Linked DNA regions of Homo sapiens: region 2 is linked to region 1. The links come from fine-mapping of genetic effects on gene expression. Tissue or cell type: whole blood. Region 1 holds a variant in brackets; the other region holds the start of a gene. All regions are shown on one strand. Distances are between the middles of the regions.

The links. PIP is the estimated chance that this variant, and not a neighbour inherited with it, causes the effect.
Region 2: ZNF177 starts here. The variant in region 1 is fine-mapped to the expression of ZNF177 in whole blood (TOPMed, PIP above 0.99).

What each region holds. Positions count from the first base shown.
Region 1 is chr19:9,586,689-9,594,921 of GRCh38, forward strand. LOC105376914 (a long non-coding RNA gene) reads right to left here. Exons shown (of 2, transcript XR_936311.3): 2 at 3,781-4,051. Among named protein-coding and RNA genes, the nearest start is that of ZNF121, 6.3 kb to the left of the region's middle. RefSeq lists an enhancer at 2,747-3,393. The variant G/A (reference allele first, on the strand shown) is at 3,901.
Region 2 is chr19:9,358,921-9,367,153 of GRCh38, forward strand. ZNF177 (zinc finger protein 177) reads left to right here and starts at 4,093. Exons shown (of 8, transcript NM_001172651.2): 1 at 4,093-4,164; 2 at 5,942-6,028. ZNF559-ZNF177 (ZNF559-ZNF177 readthrough) reads left to right here. Exons shown (of 13, transcript NM_001384659.1): 7 at 5,942-6,028.

The DNA.
Region 1 (8,233 bases):
AGGCAAAAAAAGCCATTTGTAATGGAAAGTCTAAGACAGCTGGGTAGCCATCAGAGAAAAGATGAAATTAAATCCATACTTCACAGCATATACAAGAATAAACTCTAAATGGACTAGGGATCTAAATGTGAAAAATAAAACCATATACGCATTCAGGGTGTAAGTGATTTCTTGGCTGAGTAAGGAAAAAGACGTGACCACAAGGCGGCAGTAGCACACAAGCTTCATTTGGGATGTGCTTTGACAGGTAAGGAGTGGCGGGAGGTAGCAAACAGCAAGAGAATATCCACAGGCTTCTACCTGTGGGTCGCTGCTCAGAAAGGGTGGAAAGGAAGAAAGACTCCCAGAGGAGAAGGGGAATCAAAGAGGGGGCTTATATGACTAAGTGACGATGCTCAGCAGCCTGGCAGCATATCTTCCAGTTAAAAAGTTCTGAAGGACAAGTCTGGCCAACATGGTGAAACTCCGCCTCTACTAAAAATACAAAAATTAGCCGGGCATGGTGGCGGGCGCCTGTAATCCCAGCTACTCGGGAGGATGAGGCAGGAGAATTGCTTATACCCGGGAAGCGGCGGTTGTATTGAGCCAAGATCGCGCCATTGCACTCCAGCCTGGGCGATAGAGTGAGACTCAGTCTCAAAAAAATAAAAATAAAATATGTAATTATCTGTTCATTCTGAGTACAGGGAAACACTGATAGGACTATCCTGAAAATAATAAGATTCAGAATCTATCGGGGATAGATGGGAAGGGCTTGAACAGAATGGTGGGATAAGAACAAAATGGAGAGGATAGGGATAGGGAAACCTCTCTGAGCATATCATTCTGTTTAGTTCTGATGTTTAAAATCACATTCTACTTTTTTTTTTTCTTTTTGACAGGGTTTCACTCTGTCACACAGGCTGGAGTGTAGTAGCGTTATCATTGCTCAGTGCAGCCTTTACTTTGTGAGCTCAAGTAATCCTCCTGCCCAAGTACCAGGGAATACATATGTACACCACCACATCCAGCTAATTTTTAAAAATATTTTGGGTAGAGAAGAGATCTCTCTATGTTGCCCAGGCTGCTCTTGAACTTCCAGTCTGTCACATATAAAGTTTTGGTGCCACAAAAGAAATAACACTTGAATATAAAATTTTCTTTTTAATTCTCAGCAAGGCAAGATACTTCTATAGAAGGGTGCACTCTCACAGATGGAGCAATGGTGGGCACACACCTGGACAAGGGAGGGAAAGGGGTTCTTATTCCTGACACACGTGGTCCCTACTGCTCTGTCGTTCCCCTACTGGCTAGGGTTGGACCTCACAGGCTAAACTAATTCCGATTGACTAATTTAAAGAGAGTGATGGAGTGAGCGGTTTGGGAAAAGGGTGCTTTATGAGGAAGTTAAGTTTAAAAGTAGAAGGCAAAGAATTGAGCATACTGACATATTAATTCTTTGAAGAGAAATTTATAATTCATTTTCAACAACTTCCTCCTCTTGCATTTTTTTTATGGCTTTCTCTTCAAACTTATTTAACATGTCTTGACTTAGTTGTTCTGCTTGATTTTCCAAAAGAAGGAGCTTCTCTGGATAAGGTGGAGGATAGTTAAAGGAGGTTTTAGTAAGTGCCATTTCTATGAGCCTCTGCACCAACCTACAGATGCATGGTATGACACGGCACCTGACAAGGATAAGTACACCCATTACGGCTACAAGGGAGGTGAGAATTGAGGCTATTATTCCTTTCCATTTACCGAACCACTTTTCTAGCCATTCTGTAAATGGGTAATTTACCCCTGAATTGCTGGCCAACTCATTGGATAGAGGAGTCAGGCCTTGCAATGCCTTTCTTATACTTCCATTAGGGGCCGTGTTGTTTGGGATGAAGTTGCAACAATGAGTTTTAATAATGATGCAAACTCCTCCTCTTTCTGCTAATACCATGTCTAAAGCTATCCTATTTTCCCAAGCCATCAGGTTAGTAGCCCCCAATTGCTCAGCTATTCCTTTAACAGCATCTCTAGTGTAGTTAATAAATCGCTGTTGGTTGTAATAGATGTAGTTTACCCAATCTACATTTTTTTTTTTTTGAGATGGAGTCTCACTCTGTCACCCAGGCTGGAATGCAGTGGTGCGATCTTGGCTCACTGCAAGCTCCGCCTCCTGGGTTCATGCCATTCTCCTACCTCAGCCTCCTGAGTAGTTGGGACTACAGGCACCTGCCACCATGCCCGGTGAATTTTTTGTATTTTTAGTAGAGACAGGGTTTCACCGCGTTACCCAGGATGGTCTCAATCTCCTGACCTTGTGATCCGCCCGCCTCGGCCTCCCAAAGTGCTGGGATTACAGGCATGAGCCATCGCGCCCGGCCCACCCAATCTACATTTTTATTAACTGTCGCCTACCAAAATATTGACTTAAATCCTGCAGCTATTGGATTTTGGGCTTTAAATTGATCTGGTATTCCCCGTGGGACTCCAATTGCATCTAAATAGCCGTGAGAGTTGAAAGACCTATAACGGGCTTGTCTTGCTTTACGAAGTCTTATCTTTCCTCCCTCTGGTTGCTGAAATGCCAGGGTGAAAGGGATAGCCAATTGGACTAAAGCACAAGTGCCACTCCAGTTATTCAGCAGAGTGTCCAGTAAAGGTCCACCACAATACCACCACACATCCGCTCAGGGATGAGCAAGGGCTGACTGATTGGTAAGCTCTTGAAAGTTCTTAAGCTCACTGCATCCCTTCAGGTCTCCAAGGAACACTAAGTTTCCTCTCTGTTGTGAGAGACACGAAGTGAACTTAATGTTGGGAGATGGAAGCTGGATGGCCCTCGGGGGCTGACCAGCATGTTGTTGAACTTCAGGATATAGCAGAGACAGAGAGTCGGCATGACTCTTTACCCTAGGCTGTAGAATCCTGGAAAAGAGTTACCATGCAGCCCATGCCCGGTCTATTGGAGAACCACCCTAGTGGAAAGGGGACAATCTGGGCCTCTGGCCTGCTGTGCGCACTAGCATAACAATTGCTTTTGTTTAACATGCGGATGGAATATTTGATCCATTCCAACCAGGTATTTACATCTTGGTATCCTGTCTCAATTGCCAAAGTTTAAGTCTTTAACTTCTACCATCGCTATCATGGCCTTGTCCTTAGATGGAGGAGGAACAATGGTTCCGTTGTGAGAGGTTTTGGAAAAAGGCTAAGAGGCAGGTGCAGGCAGCGGGAGATCAAAGAAACGCATTTCAAAGAATCCAGTAGGGTCTGTCCTTGAAACCTCAGCCCCTATACCATAAAACCGGCTTAAAGAAAGGAACTGGCTTAGAAAAGGAGAACTTTGGGGCTCAAAATACTAACCTGTATAGGGTTGCACTGGTTTGGCTGACAGTTGGGGGGGGCTGTCCCTTTAGTAAATGAATGTATGGTTTTAGGAAATTCCAAAAACTGGTTAGGGCAGTCCATCCTTGCTCTTTGGTGGTCCACAGAACGTTGGACCAACTACGGCATAAAAGCTCTACATCGGGGGTTGGGGTCAAGACTCCTGGTTTCCACTGGGATCTTTATGGAAATCTCCCAGATTAAATGGTCCTAATTCACTAATGCCCAGTCTGAGGAGAGCCAGGAGGGACAGAGGTGCTTTTCTGAAGTAGTGAGCTGCCTTTGACTTGACAAATCCCCACAGGGTATAACAAGGCAAGCATTAAATGCAACAGTTTGAGGCAAAATTGACTTGGTTATGTTAATAACTAGATGGTCAGCAACAGAGCGAGGAAAGAAGAAAGAGTAATAGAATAGATGAAAGACAGTTAAATTCTTCTTAGCTTTAGTTTGGTAGGGTTTTCCCCTGGGACTATGGCCCACCACTCTGGAGGTGGTGGCGCGTTCTTGACTCTGGTGTGATGAGTCCATCCTCTCTCTGCC[G/A]TGCGGACTGCGGTTTCAGTAGTGAGGAGCAGTAAGTAATGAGATTCCCAGGCTGGCTCAGGCTTCTCCTCTTTCCAGCTCTTGATGAGGACATGATCCCCAGGCTGATGATGCACTGGGAACTCTAAGGGTGGCACCTGTGCTAATAGACCTTTAGTTTTAAGAGAAGAGAGAATAGAAGATAGACAAAGTATATAATTTTTAAGGATTGATCTTTTGTTTCAAAGGTAGGAATATCAGCAGTGGAGTGCAAATAAGGTAATCCATAGAGCATCTCATAAGGAGAAAGACCAACGTCTTTCCGTGGTGCAGTTTGAATTCTCAGCAGGGCGATAGGAAGACACTTGGTCCATGGCAATCGAGTCTCTAAGACTAATTTGGTTAAGTGGTTCTTTAGAGTCTGATTCATTCTTTCTACTCTCCCTGATGAGGGTGGGTGCCAGGGAGTATGGTGTTCCTATTTAATGTCTAATGTTTGGGATAGCTTTTTAATAATGTGTGTGGTGAAATGAGTTCCATTGTCTGAGTCAATATTTTCTATTAGTCCAAACCTGGGTACTATATTTTCAATTAAGGCCTTAACTACATTATTGGCTGTTGCATTTGAAAAGGGGACAGCTTCAACCAAGTGAGTGAGGTAGTCTACTATCACTAGTAAATATTTTAGACGACCTATTGGAGGCATTTCTGTGTAATCAACTTGGATACTTTGGAATGGCCTTAAGCCCAGATTCCTTCCCCCGAGAGGTAATCTTTTTATAGTATGTCTATTAGTTTTCTTACATACTAAGCAACTATCTGTAACCTGTTTGGCCAGAGTATAAATTCCTATATAACTATAAACTCTGAGAACTGCATCACACATGGCCTGGGGCCCCCAGTGGGTCTCATGATGTAGTTAGGATAAGACTTCCCTCATAAGGGGTTTGGACAACATTTCTCTCTGGTCTGACAGCATCCACTTTCCTTCTGAATTCTCTTTAGCGTCTATGTTTATTAGTTTCTCTTTTTTGGTGGAAGAGAAAATGGGGATTATGGTAGGAGGAGGGAGGTAGGGAGTTAAGTGAAAAATATGCATTTCAGAAGACACAGCAGCCTGCTTGGCTACCTGATCTGCTAGGTTATTTCCTCGACTTTCAAAAGAGGTTTTTCTGTTGTCCGGGAACATGGACAATAGTTATTTTTTCCGGCAACTGAAGATTATTCAATACTTGGGTGATCAGCTCCTTGTGAACAAGGTCTTGACCTTTACTATTAATGAGAACTCGTTCAGTCCAAATTTTTCCAAATGTATGAGCCACTTCAAAGGTGTACTTAGAATCGGTATAGATAGTTCCCTCCTGGTCCTGTAAGTACTTTAAGGCTTGGCTGAGTGCAAACAGCTCACACATTTGAGCAGACCAACTGTTGGGCAATTTTTCTGACTCTATTTCTATGAGAGTTTCTCCATCAATCACTGAATACCCATTGTGTCTTTTTCCCTCAATCACCCAGGAGGAACCATCTATGAATAAGTGCCCTCCAGTCCAGAAGGGGGTTTCTCCTAGGTCTGGTCGAACCTTTCTATGGTAATCAATTAAATCTAAACATGTGTGTTCTCTCCTTAGATTTGGATTCCCTGTAGGAAACCTGCTGGGTTGAGTGAATTATCAGTGGTCAGTGTTAAACCATCCTTTTTTTTTTTTCTTTTTTTGAGACGGAGTCTCACTCTGTCACCAGGCTGGAGTGCAGTGGTGCCATCTCAACTCACTGCAACATCCAACTCCCAGGTTCAAGCGATCCTCCTGCTTCAGCCTGCCAAGTAGCTGGGACTACAGGCGTGTGCCACCACGCCCAGCTAATTTTTGTATTTTTAGTAGAGATGGGGTTTCACCATGTTGGCCAGGATGGTCTTGATCTATTGACCTTGTGATCCACCAGCCTCGGCCTCCCAAAGTGCTGGGATTACAGGCATAAGCCACCATACCCGGCCATAAATCATCTTTTTCTAACAGAATGGCCTCATACTTTAAGATTCTTGAGTCAGTAAGCCATCTCCCTGCTCTATGGTTTAAGATAGTTCTAACTTGGTGAGGCGTGCTTACTGTCAATTTTCCTCCAAAGGTTAACTTTCTGCTTTCCTTGACTACTATTGCTGTAGCTGCGATGGACTGGATGCATTGAGGCCATCCACAAGTGACTGGGTCTGAGGCTTTTGGTAGGAAGGCTACAGGCTGTCGGCAGCCTCCATGCTCTTGAGTCAGCACTCCTAAAGTTATCCCACTGTCCACATTAACAAAAAGGTGGAATGGCTTTTCCAGGGAGGGTTAGGCTAAAACAGGGGCAGTTATGAGCCTTTCCTTCAGCTTCTCAACTTGATCAACTTCCTCAGAAGTCCACAGGAGACAGTTAGGTTTCTCCTGAGCAAGTTTTTGATATAACAGTTTACTGTGCAGTGCATATGAGTCAATCCAAAAGCGGCAGTATCTAACTAATCCTAAACATTTCCTGAGTTCTTGTTTAGTTTGAGGCAAGGGTAGGGACACAATTCCCTCAATTCGTTCAGGCCCTATTCTTCACTTGTCTGCACTTATTAAGTGGCCTAAATACTTAACTTCGGGATCTACATACTGAAGCTTTCTTGTTGAGACTCGTAGCCCCTCAAACTACAGGTGATTAAGAATATGTGTAGAGAAGTCAGTTACCTTCTCTATATCTTCACCAGATATAAGAATGTTGTCCACGTACTGAAGAAGGTATATTTGTTCTGGGATGACAACTTTTTCTAGTACTTGTTCTAAACTTTGGCCAAAAAGATTAGGGGAGTCTGTGAACCCTTGGGGCAAGACTGTCCATCGATATTGTTGTTTCCACCCTGATTGGGGATCTCAGCTATCTTCAGCCAGGGGACATGCCCAAAAAGCATTCTTCAAATCTATTACAGTAAACCATTGATGATTACATGAAATCTTGTTAAGAATAGTGTAAGGATTGGGGACAACGGGGTGGGTAGTCTGGACTATTTGGTTGATAGCTCTACAGTCCTGTACTAGCCGATATGACCCATCTGATTTCTTGACTGGCAGTATTGGGGTGTTTTAAGGAGACATACAGGGCTGGAGAAGCCCGTCCTTAATAAGGCCTTTGATTATAGGTTTCAACCTTATCCTGCCTTCTAGGGGAATAGGGTATTGTTTCCTTCTTACTACTTCTCCTGGGGTTTTTAGCTGATGTGGATTGGAGGGACTTGGAGTTTCCCTTAGTCTCCTTCTTTGGACCAGACATTAGGATTAATATATTTTTCATCCGCAGTGGTGAGTAGGTTTAATGGGGTGAAGAATTCTCTTGGGCTGACTTGTAGACCTATGCCCAACTTTAACATTAAATCCCTCCCCAGGAAATTAGTTCCTGCTTCAGGGATTAACAAGAACTGAATATAAGCTGAGCGATCCTGGTGTCTAACTTCTGTGCTTTGTAAAATTTTTGCTCTAAATCCTTCCCCTTTTACCCTGGAAACTAAAAGTTCCTCTGAGGAGGAGCCAACATTAGATGGGGGGAAACAAACAGGAGCGAGCAGCCCCTGAATCGACTAAAAAGGCGATAAGCTCATGTTTAGGTCCCACATCCAAATTGATCAAGGGCTCCTGGTGGGACTCAAGATAAAAGAGACAGGGCCCCTGACCCCCCTATTCCTTGAAAGTCATGAGTGGAAGGGCTTCTTTCTCCTTAGTTCAGGACATTCTCTCTTGAAGTGGCCTGTTCTTCCACATCTATAGCACATATCTTGTCCTTCCTCCCTCTTAGTTCTGGGATTCTTTAACCCTGTCCCCCCATACTCTTTAGGGGGCCTGGTAGATGAGGACCTTTGTCCTCCAGATGGAGGCTGGGGGCCTTTAAAACAGGGTTCAGACCCTTTATACTTTCTAGGTCCCTGGAAGCTCTGTCTAGAAGTACCTGGGTTTGGAGCCATCTGTTGGAAGGTGGAAAACATAAGTTTTGTTTTTTGTTTCTGTTTTTCTTCATCCCGTTTCACATGTACTTTCTAAGCTTCCCTGAGAAGCTCACTTAGAGGACGGTCTTCCCAATTGTCTATTTTTTATAACTTTTTTGAAATGTCTAGGCAACTTTTACTGACAAATTGGAGTTTCAACATTCCTTGCCCAAGGAGATCATCCAAAGTAAGGCCTGCATATTGCCTCATTTGCTCCCTCAGTCTGTCTAGGAATCTCACAGTCCCTTCATCCTTTTCCTGTTGTATATCAAGCGCTTTAGAAAGATTGCGGGTTCAGGGTACTGATTCCTGATTTCCTTTTATTATCATCTCCCTTAGGTCCTGCATATTTTCCCGGTGATC
Region 2 (8,233 bases), 230 kb before region 1:
TTTTCCCCAATCTCTTTGCCTCTGAGTAACCATTCTTCAAATTCAGAACCACACTCAGGGTAAAATATAAGTAAGGGCTATTTATTTTTTTGCCACTGTTTTGGCATCTGTAGACAATACAGTTTATTTAATTTCAGGTTTTCACAGTTATGTACAGTCATACCTCGGAGATATGTGAGTTCGCTTCCACAGACCATCATAGTAAAGTGAGTCATACAAATTTTTTGGTTTCCTAGTGCATATAAAAGTTACGTTGGCTGGGTGAGGTGGCTGTCACCTGTAATCCCAGTGCTTTGAGAAGCTGAGGTAGGAGGATCACTTGAGTCTAGGAGTTTGAGACCAGCCTGGGCAACTATAGCAAGACCCCATCTCTACAAAAAAAATGTTTTACATCAGTCAGGTGTGGTGGAGTAGCTGTAGTTCTAGCTATTCAGGAGGCTGAGGCAGGTGGATTGCTTGAGCCCAGGAGTTCAAGGCTGCAATAAGCTATGATTGTGCCACTGCATTCCAGCCTGGGTGACAGAGTAATACCCTGTCTCAAAAAAAAAAAAAAAAAAAAAAAAAAATGCTGAGCGTGGTGGTTCATGCCTATAATCCCAGCACTTTGGGAGGCCGAGGTGGGTGGTGGATCACCTGAGGTCAAGAGTTCAAGACCAGCCTGTCCAACATGGTGAAACCCCATTCTCTACTAAAAATGTAAAAATTAGCCAGGTGTGGTGGAGCACACCTACAATCCCAGCTACTTGGGAGGCTGAGGCAGGAGAATCACTTGAACGCAGGAGGTGGAGGCTGCAGTGAGTTGAGATTGTGCCATGGCACTCCAGCCTAGGCAACAGAGCAATACTGCATCTTAAAAAAAAAAAAAAAATTATAGTCTATTGTGTGCAGTAGCATTATGTCTAAAAAACAAAGGATGCACCTTAATTGTAAAATACTTTGCTTAAAAATTCTGACAGAGAAACAAAGTGAGTATGTGTTATTGGAAAAATGGTGCTAGTAGACTTCATCAGTGGCCACAAACCTTCAATTTGTAATAACCTTCAATTTGTAATAAAAATAAAACCCCACACGTTATCTGCAAAGCACAATAAAATGAAGTATGTTACATGTTGATTTTCAGGAATTAGAAGAAAATGAGAGTATTGTTGTCATCGGAAATAAGAGGATTGTTTTGCCAAGCTACTGAAAAAAAAAAAAACTTTCATTCCTTTGTCAACTGCAAGAATGGTAATATTTGACAAGAAAAACCCAACTTGTCAAATACTACGATTCTTGCAGTTGACAAAGGAATGAAAAGTTAATAGCATATGTGAGGCTGGACACGGTGGCTCACACCTGTAATCCCAACACTTTGGGAGGCCAAGACGGGTGGATCACCTGAGGTCAGGAGTTCGAGGCCAACCTGACCAATGTGGCAAAAGCCCATCTCTACTAAAAATACAAAAATTAGCCAGGCATGGTGGCAGGCACCTATAATCCCAGCTACTGGGGAGGCTGAGACATGAGAACAGGTTGAACCCGGGAGGCGGAGGTTGCAGTGAGCTGAGATTGCGCCACTGCATTCCAGCCTGGGCAACAGAGGGTGACTCCGTCTCAGAAAAAAAAAAAAAGTATATATGAGCATTTAACAAGGCTATAGGTTTTGATTTTGAGCCCTGAAAACCCCCAGGTTTAGTTTCATTGGGAATTTGTATTCAAACATGTCTCTGCTCTGGATCCATAGGTGGCACAATTTTGCCAGTTTTTGATGCATAAATGGTGACAGTATCCTTTAACAAAATTCCTAAAGTAGTCTTTTAAAAAAATAATTCTGAAAATCTGGCCAATGATAATACAGGACTCGGAAGAAAATACTACCCATTGAAATTGGAAAGCCTGTTTTCAATTTGGGGTCTGCTTTTTTTTTTTTTAATTGCTTTAAGAGATTAAGGATTTTAGACACAAACACGTCATAAAGTGTTTTTAGATTTGCATGAACCTACTGTGGTTTAGTATAAATAAACCCCTAACATGAGTGTTACAGATGCCTGTGAGGGTATCTTGGGGGTTTCTACACTGCCTACCCCAAACCTGACTGCAGTCAGAGCCAACAGGGCCCCACGTAGGCAAAGGCTATGTCATTAATTCTCAAATGAGATTCGTCCAAGCGGGAAATGCACATCTAGTGCAGTAGTTTTAGGCCAGCCTTTTTCAGAGCCTCAGGCTCTGCCTGTCACCTTGAAGACATCCATGTGGGTCCCCTCAGGGCTTCTCTTTGCCATAAAAATAAAATGATTGCTCCCACCAATGTTTGCGTCCATGGGAGAGGAGGTAGGAGCAGCAGTACTTGTCCTGTGTGTGGGAGACACTTGAAGGGCTCAGTGGGAATTGTCAGCAGCAGGGAACAGAACAGGTGGTGAGAAGAGTCATTCCACTGAGTTTCTGGGCCTTTGACTCCCTGAAACTTCCTTCTCCTCTATCCAACCTCCCTCTCCAGAAAAAAAAAAAAATAATTTAAAAATGGAATCAGTGTAATCAGTGAAGTAGCTGTATTCCAGTGAACAAGCAGCCTGCCCTTGCATCTGCATGCATGCAGCCTTGGCGTTTTCTCTAGAAAAAAGAGAGGTTCTACCTCGTGCATGAATACAGGTGGAGGCCAAGACCAGCATTAACAAAGGCTGTGTGTTTGCCATGGAGCTCAGGAGGGCTAACAGTCATTTTACTTCTGCCTCCGACCATCACACTTTGTCCCCAGAACAAAGCCAAGAGTCCTTGGTCAATGAAAGTGTGTAAATATCCTCACACTTCCCCTAGTAGTTCCTTTTTAGGCTGTAATCATGTGCTAAAGAAAAGAACCTAACTTCTTAAAATCTTTCCCTTTTTGGATGTAGATTGAAATTTTTGTTTTAAACACAATGGCCCTAATGTCTAAATCTAATGTTAGTAATTAATCCCTAGTGCTTTAAGGATCTTCTGTTTATAGGCAGTTATTTTATGGAGCTGGTCTCTGTGAGAGGCACAGACTGCCAGGAGGGGTTGAGATTTCCTTTAACCAGGATTCTTAGTTCTGAATGGCTCTAGTGAATAACATTAACAATGATTCTCTGGCCGGGCACTCACGCCGGTAATCCCAGCACTTTGGGAGGCCTAGACGGGTGGATCACTTGAGGTCAGGAGTTCAAGACCAGCCTGGCCAACATGGTGAAACCCCGTCTCTACTAAAAATACAAAAATTAGCCGGGCATGGTGGCAGCCGCCTGTAATCCCAGCTACTTGGTAGGCTGAGGCAGGAGAATTGCTTGAACCTGGGAGGCGGAGGTTGCACTGAGCCCACAGTGCGCCACTGCACTACAGTCTGGATGACAAGCAAAGCTCAATCTCAAAACAATAATTTTTAAAGTAATGATTATCTTAACCATTCTTAAATCCTTCTGTCTAGTAGGAATCTTATTCATGGGAGTGTCTGGAAAAGGGACAAAGAGCGGCTATTGAGATTTTTTTAAAGCCTGGATTTGGGATGTCTGAACAGTGAATAACTCCAAAGCCATTTAAAAATCATCTTTTTTTCTACCACCGGACTGAGCTTTTCAGTTTTAATTCCAAGGTTCCAATCATATAGATGTGAGTCAAACCCTGTTGGGCCAAACAGGATCTCCTTTGTTGGCGGATAATTTCAAGTGCTCACAGAGACCCTCCGTTTTTTTTTAAATACCTGGACTTAATTGTTTAAACTGGAGTCCGGACCAAAACATCTCTGACCTCGGGGGTCTTCCTTTGGTCAGGAAGAGGGGAGGGAGCAATTGGACCCCTTTCCCTCTGCGGCTGCAGAGTCCAATTTTCCTCTGGGGACATTTGCTTTTTCCCTTGGGGAAGACAGTACGGATTCTAGTTCTGTGGACTCTTTTACTTAGCTTTGAGACCCAAGCAAGTTAATTGGCTTGTGCCTCTTATTTTACTCTAATGCAATGAATAAAGACAGTCCCAGCCTTCGCCCTAAGGGAGCAGGAGCACCTGCGATGCCCCGTTCCCAAGTCCTCAGGGCGAATCCGCCAAATGTGCGAGCTGGGCAGCCCACCCCTTTCAGCTGCTGGCCGGAAGCGGAAGTGGGCGTCCGTCGCCTCGCCATCTCCCATAGCTGTCGCCTGCAGCTGAGAAAGGGTTGCTGTCCCAGCAGGCCAGGTCCAGGTGCGCCCCACTAGTGAGGCCGGCGGAATCGGGAGGGAAGGGGTCAAGGGCACAGTGCGCAGCCCCGGCTGCTCCAGACCTTGCCTGCAGCTTCCCGCCCCAGCCTCCGGCTATCGCGGCGTTTCTTCTCAGAGGCCGCCGGCTTTGGTTCCTCCCGGCACTGCTGGGCTTGGGGCTGCCATTCCGGGCATTGGTTCCCGGGAGGAGGCAAGTGGGTTCATGTGGTCAGAGTGCGTCGGCGGGGCCTTTTCTCCACTTTCTGTACCCTTCTCTTTAAACGTCGTCCCCAGTAGGAGACTATTTTTTCTCAAGAAAATGCTCTCTTGGACCTCACTTTCCGTTGTTAGAAGGCATATCTTGGGATGCGCGTTATTGGTTTGTGGAGATCGTCCCTTTTTTTCCCCTCTGTTATGTGGATGCACCCTAGTGCCTGATACACATTTGAGTTCCTATCTGAGTGGGCTTGTGCATGTTTTTTCGTATTTGTGGACTTAGGTCTTCAAGGTTTATTTTTGAAAGTCAAGTTGTTGGGTCAAAGCATAAATGAATGTGTAATTCCTAGGTATGACCAGATCCCCCTCTATGGGACTTGTGCTTTTTTGAGCCCTCAGGGTGTGTTTTGTATGCAGCAAGCAGCAGACCTTAGTTTTCAGTTTACCTGTAGTTTCTTTTGGATGTTTACATATTGACATATCGTTTATGAATAAGAACTTTATTCTCCCTTTATAATCCTATTACGACCCACTCCTGCCCTACAAATTTACTGCCCTGCCTACGACCTCCGAAACATTAGAAGGAGCAATCCTTGCTGCCTTCCAGGTCTCAGAAAGAAAGCTTTCAGCTTGTCACTACTTACATGTTTGCTATGTGTTTTTGATAGATTAAAGACATTCCCTTCTGTAACAGCTTTATTGACATAAAATCATATATTTCATCTCATTTAAAGTGTATAAATCAGTGGTTTTTAGTATATTGAGTTGTGCAACCATGACTACAATCTAACTCTAGAACATTTTCATTGCCCCAAAAGAGAATCCCATACTCATCAGCAGTTACTCCCCCATGGTTGGCAAGTTTTTGGGCTCTATTCTTGAGTTTTTTTATGTTGTCATACACCAGGTCAGATTGATTTAGGTAAAAACAACACTCTTCATTTAAGAATATACAGATGTTCTCCTTTTCCAGCAGTAAGTCAAGGCCTCGGCGGTTTTGGAGGACAACTGCAGCTAGAGTCAACTTGGGCCTGGAGGACTGATGAAGTTTGTGATATGACTGTGATGCTAGCAGAGAATTCATTAGAGAGACTATGGAAGGTCCTGACAGAGGTTGAAATGCCTGCTATTCCAGTACCGAGAGCAATAGTGGAGGCAGAAAGTCTTAAACTGACAAGGGAATTAGTGGAATAACTCTTTTTGTCGTGTCGGTGTCATGAGGGGAACAGGGAGCTCTTCAGTCCTATTTGCAAATTGCATTTTGAGAGTAAGGAAAACTAGTGTGCATGTGCCTGTCCAATTAGCAGGTAGACACATGTAGGTAGAGGATCCACAGAGGAAAAAGAGACCTTGTGCGAGGCAAAACTGGAGATGCAAAGTAAAAAGATGAGGAGTGCTGAAAGGGGTGTCTTGTACTTAGAATCCTAGGGATCCAGCTAGGGCGGCAGTCGTCAGAGGTTGTAATGGGGACTGATGAGGTAATTGCGTCGAGGGGGAGGTTCGATTTTCATGGTGTATGAGAAAACGTCGAGTATCTACAAGCAACCTTTCACTGTTATTTTCAGGGCTGGGTATAAGTAAGCAAGAAGAGGGCCTGGGAGAAGAGTCTGACGAGCAAGGGGAAGGTAGCCAAGGATGGAGTGAAATACAGGGTAAGTGTCTTCCTAAGCAATAATTACTGCTAATGTTTTTAAGTTTGCCACTACTGATAGAGGGCTTGTCTGTAATATGGAGCTGGAAGGCTCCAATTGTTTCAGTGATGTGTGTAGTTGGGCTTTGGAGATGAAGAGTAAAGGAACATCGAGAAGGTGAAAGTTTACCTAGGGGAATTCCAGTGGGTCTTTGCTGAGAGATACATAAAGGAGCTGCCACAGGAATAGTAGTTTGTGTTGTGAGAGGTCTAAATATGGGGGGAGTAGAGTTGATATAAGGAGGAAGGTTTTAGGTCTTTAAGAACACAGGCTAAGGGAGAAGGGGGAATGGAGGGCAGAAGCTTGCCCATAGTGAAGGAGGCAAGCCCAGAAAAAAGAGAGAGTAGAGACATGGAGAGAAGGGGTGGGGGCTTCTTGTCCTCCAGAAAAGCAGAGAAGGGGTAGAGACACAGAGAGAAGGGACCGGGGGGTTCTTGCACCCCAGAAAAGTGGAGAAGGGCTAGAGATATGGAGAGAAGGGTTCAGGGGTTCTTGACCCCCAGAAAAGCGGAGAAGGGTAGACACATGGAGAGAAGGGGGTCAGGGGGTTCTTGCCCCCAGAAAAGCAGTACTTGCCGCTAAGGGTGAAGGACCAAGGCAGGCATCCCCACGTGGTCAGACACCTCTGAAATGTGGGTGAATAATCAGGCAGGCGTCCCCGCATGATTAAACACCAAGGGAAGACTGTCTTCCCGAGTCCATGACCGGCGCCGGAGTTTTGGGTCCATGGATAAAACACGTCTCCTGTCTACGAGAAAAGGAAAGGAACTGAAATTGAGAGAAGGGAGAGATTGAAGTGTGGCGCCAAGATTGAAATGAGAAAGAGGTTGAGGGATAGTAAGAGAGGTTGGAGAAGAGAGTAAAAAGAGGCCACTTACCTGATTTAAAATTGGATTGATGTTCCTTGGCTGGTCGGTCTGAGGACCTGAGGTCATAGGTGGATCTTTCTCACAGAGCAAAGAGCAGGAGGATAGGGGATTGATCTCCCAAGGGAGGTCCCCAGATCTGAGTCACAGCACCAAATCTACCTCTGTCGCCAGGCTAGAGTGCAGTGGCGCAATCTCGGCTCACTGCAACCTCTGCCTCCCGGGTTCAAGTGATTCTCCTGCCTCAGCCTCCCAAGTAGCTAGGATTACAGGCATGCTCCACCACACCCGGCTAATTTTTGTATTTTTAGTAGAGACGTTCTTTCACCATGTTGGCCAGAGTGGTCTGGATCTCCTGACCTCGTGATGCGCCCACCTTGGCTTCCCAAAGTGCTGGGACTACAGGCGTGAGCCACCGTGCCTAGCCTCATTCCTTTTTTTAATGAGACAAGGTCTTTCTCTGTCACCCAGGCTGGAGTGCCGTGGTGCCCTCGACCTCCCTAGCTCGGCCTTCCACCTTAGCCTCCCGAGTAGGTAGGACCACAGGTGTGGGCCACCAAGCCTGGCTATTTTTTTAAATTTTTGGTAGAGATGAGATCTCACTGTGTTACCAGGCTGGTCTGAACTCCTGGGTTAATGTGATCCACCCACTACAGCCTCCCTAAGTGCTGAGGATTACAGGCATGAGTCACCATGCCTGGCCTTCATTTTCTATTGTCAAATGATAGTCCATTGTATGGATATACCACATTTTCATTTATCCGTTCATCGGTAGATAGACATTTGGGTTGTTTCTCCTTTTTGGCTAATATGAATAATGCTGCTGTGAATATTTCTCTTGGGTATATACCTAGGAGTGGAATGCCTTGTTCATGAGACGAACTTTTATGTTTAATCTTCTGGTAAAATGCTAGGCTGTTTGCCAACGTGGCAGCACCACTTCCCACTTCACTCCCCTCCACAAAAAAACAAGAGAATTTCTCCACATCCTCATCCACACTTGTCTTTTTAATTACACTCACCTTAATGTGTGAAGTGGTATCTTAATGTGGTTTTGATTTGCATTTCCCTGGTGTCTAATGATGTTCAGCATCTTTTCATGTGCAGTTGACCTTTTTATCTTTAGAAAAATGTACATTCAGATCATTTGCCCATCTTTGAATTGTGTTTTCAAAAGTCAGCTGAGGCTGGGCGTGGTGGCTCACGCCTGTAATCCCAGCACTTTGGGAGGCCCAGGCGGGCGGATCATGAGGTCAGCAGATCAAGACCATCCTGGCTAACACGGTGAAACCCCGTCTCT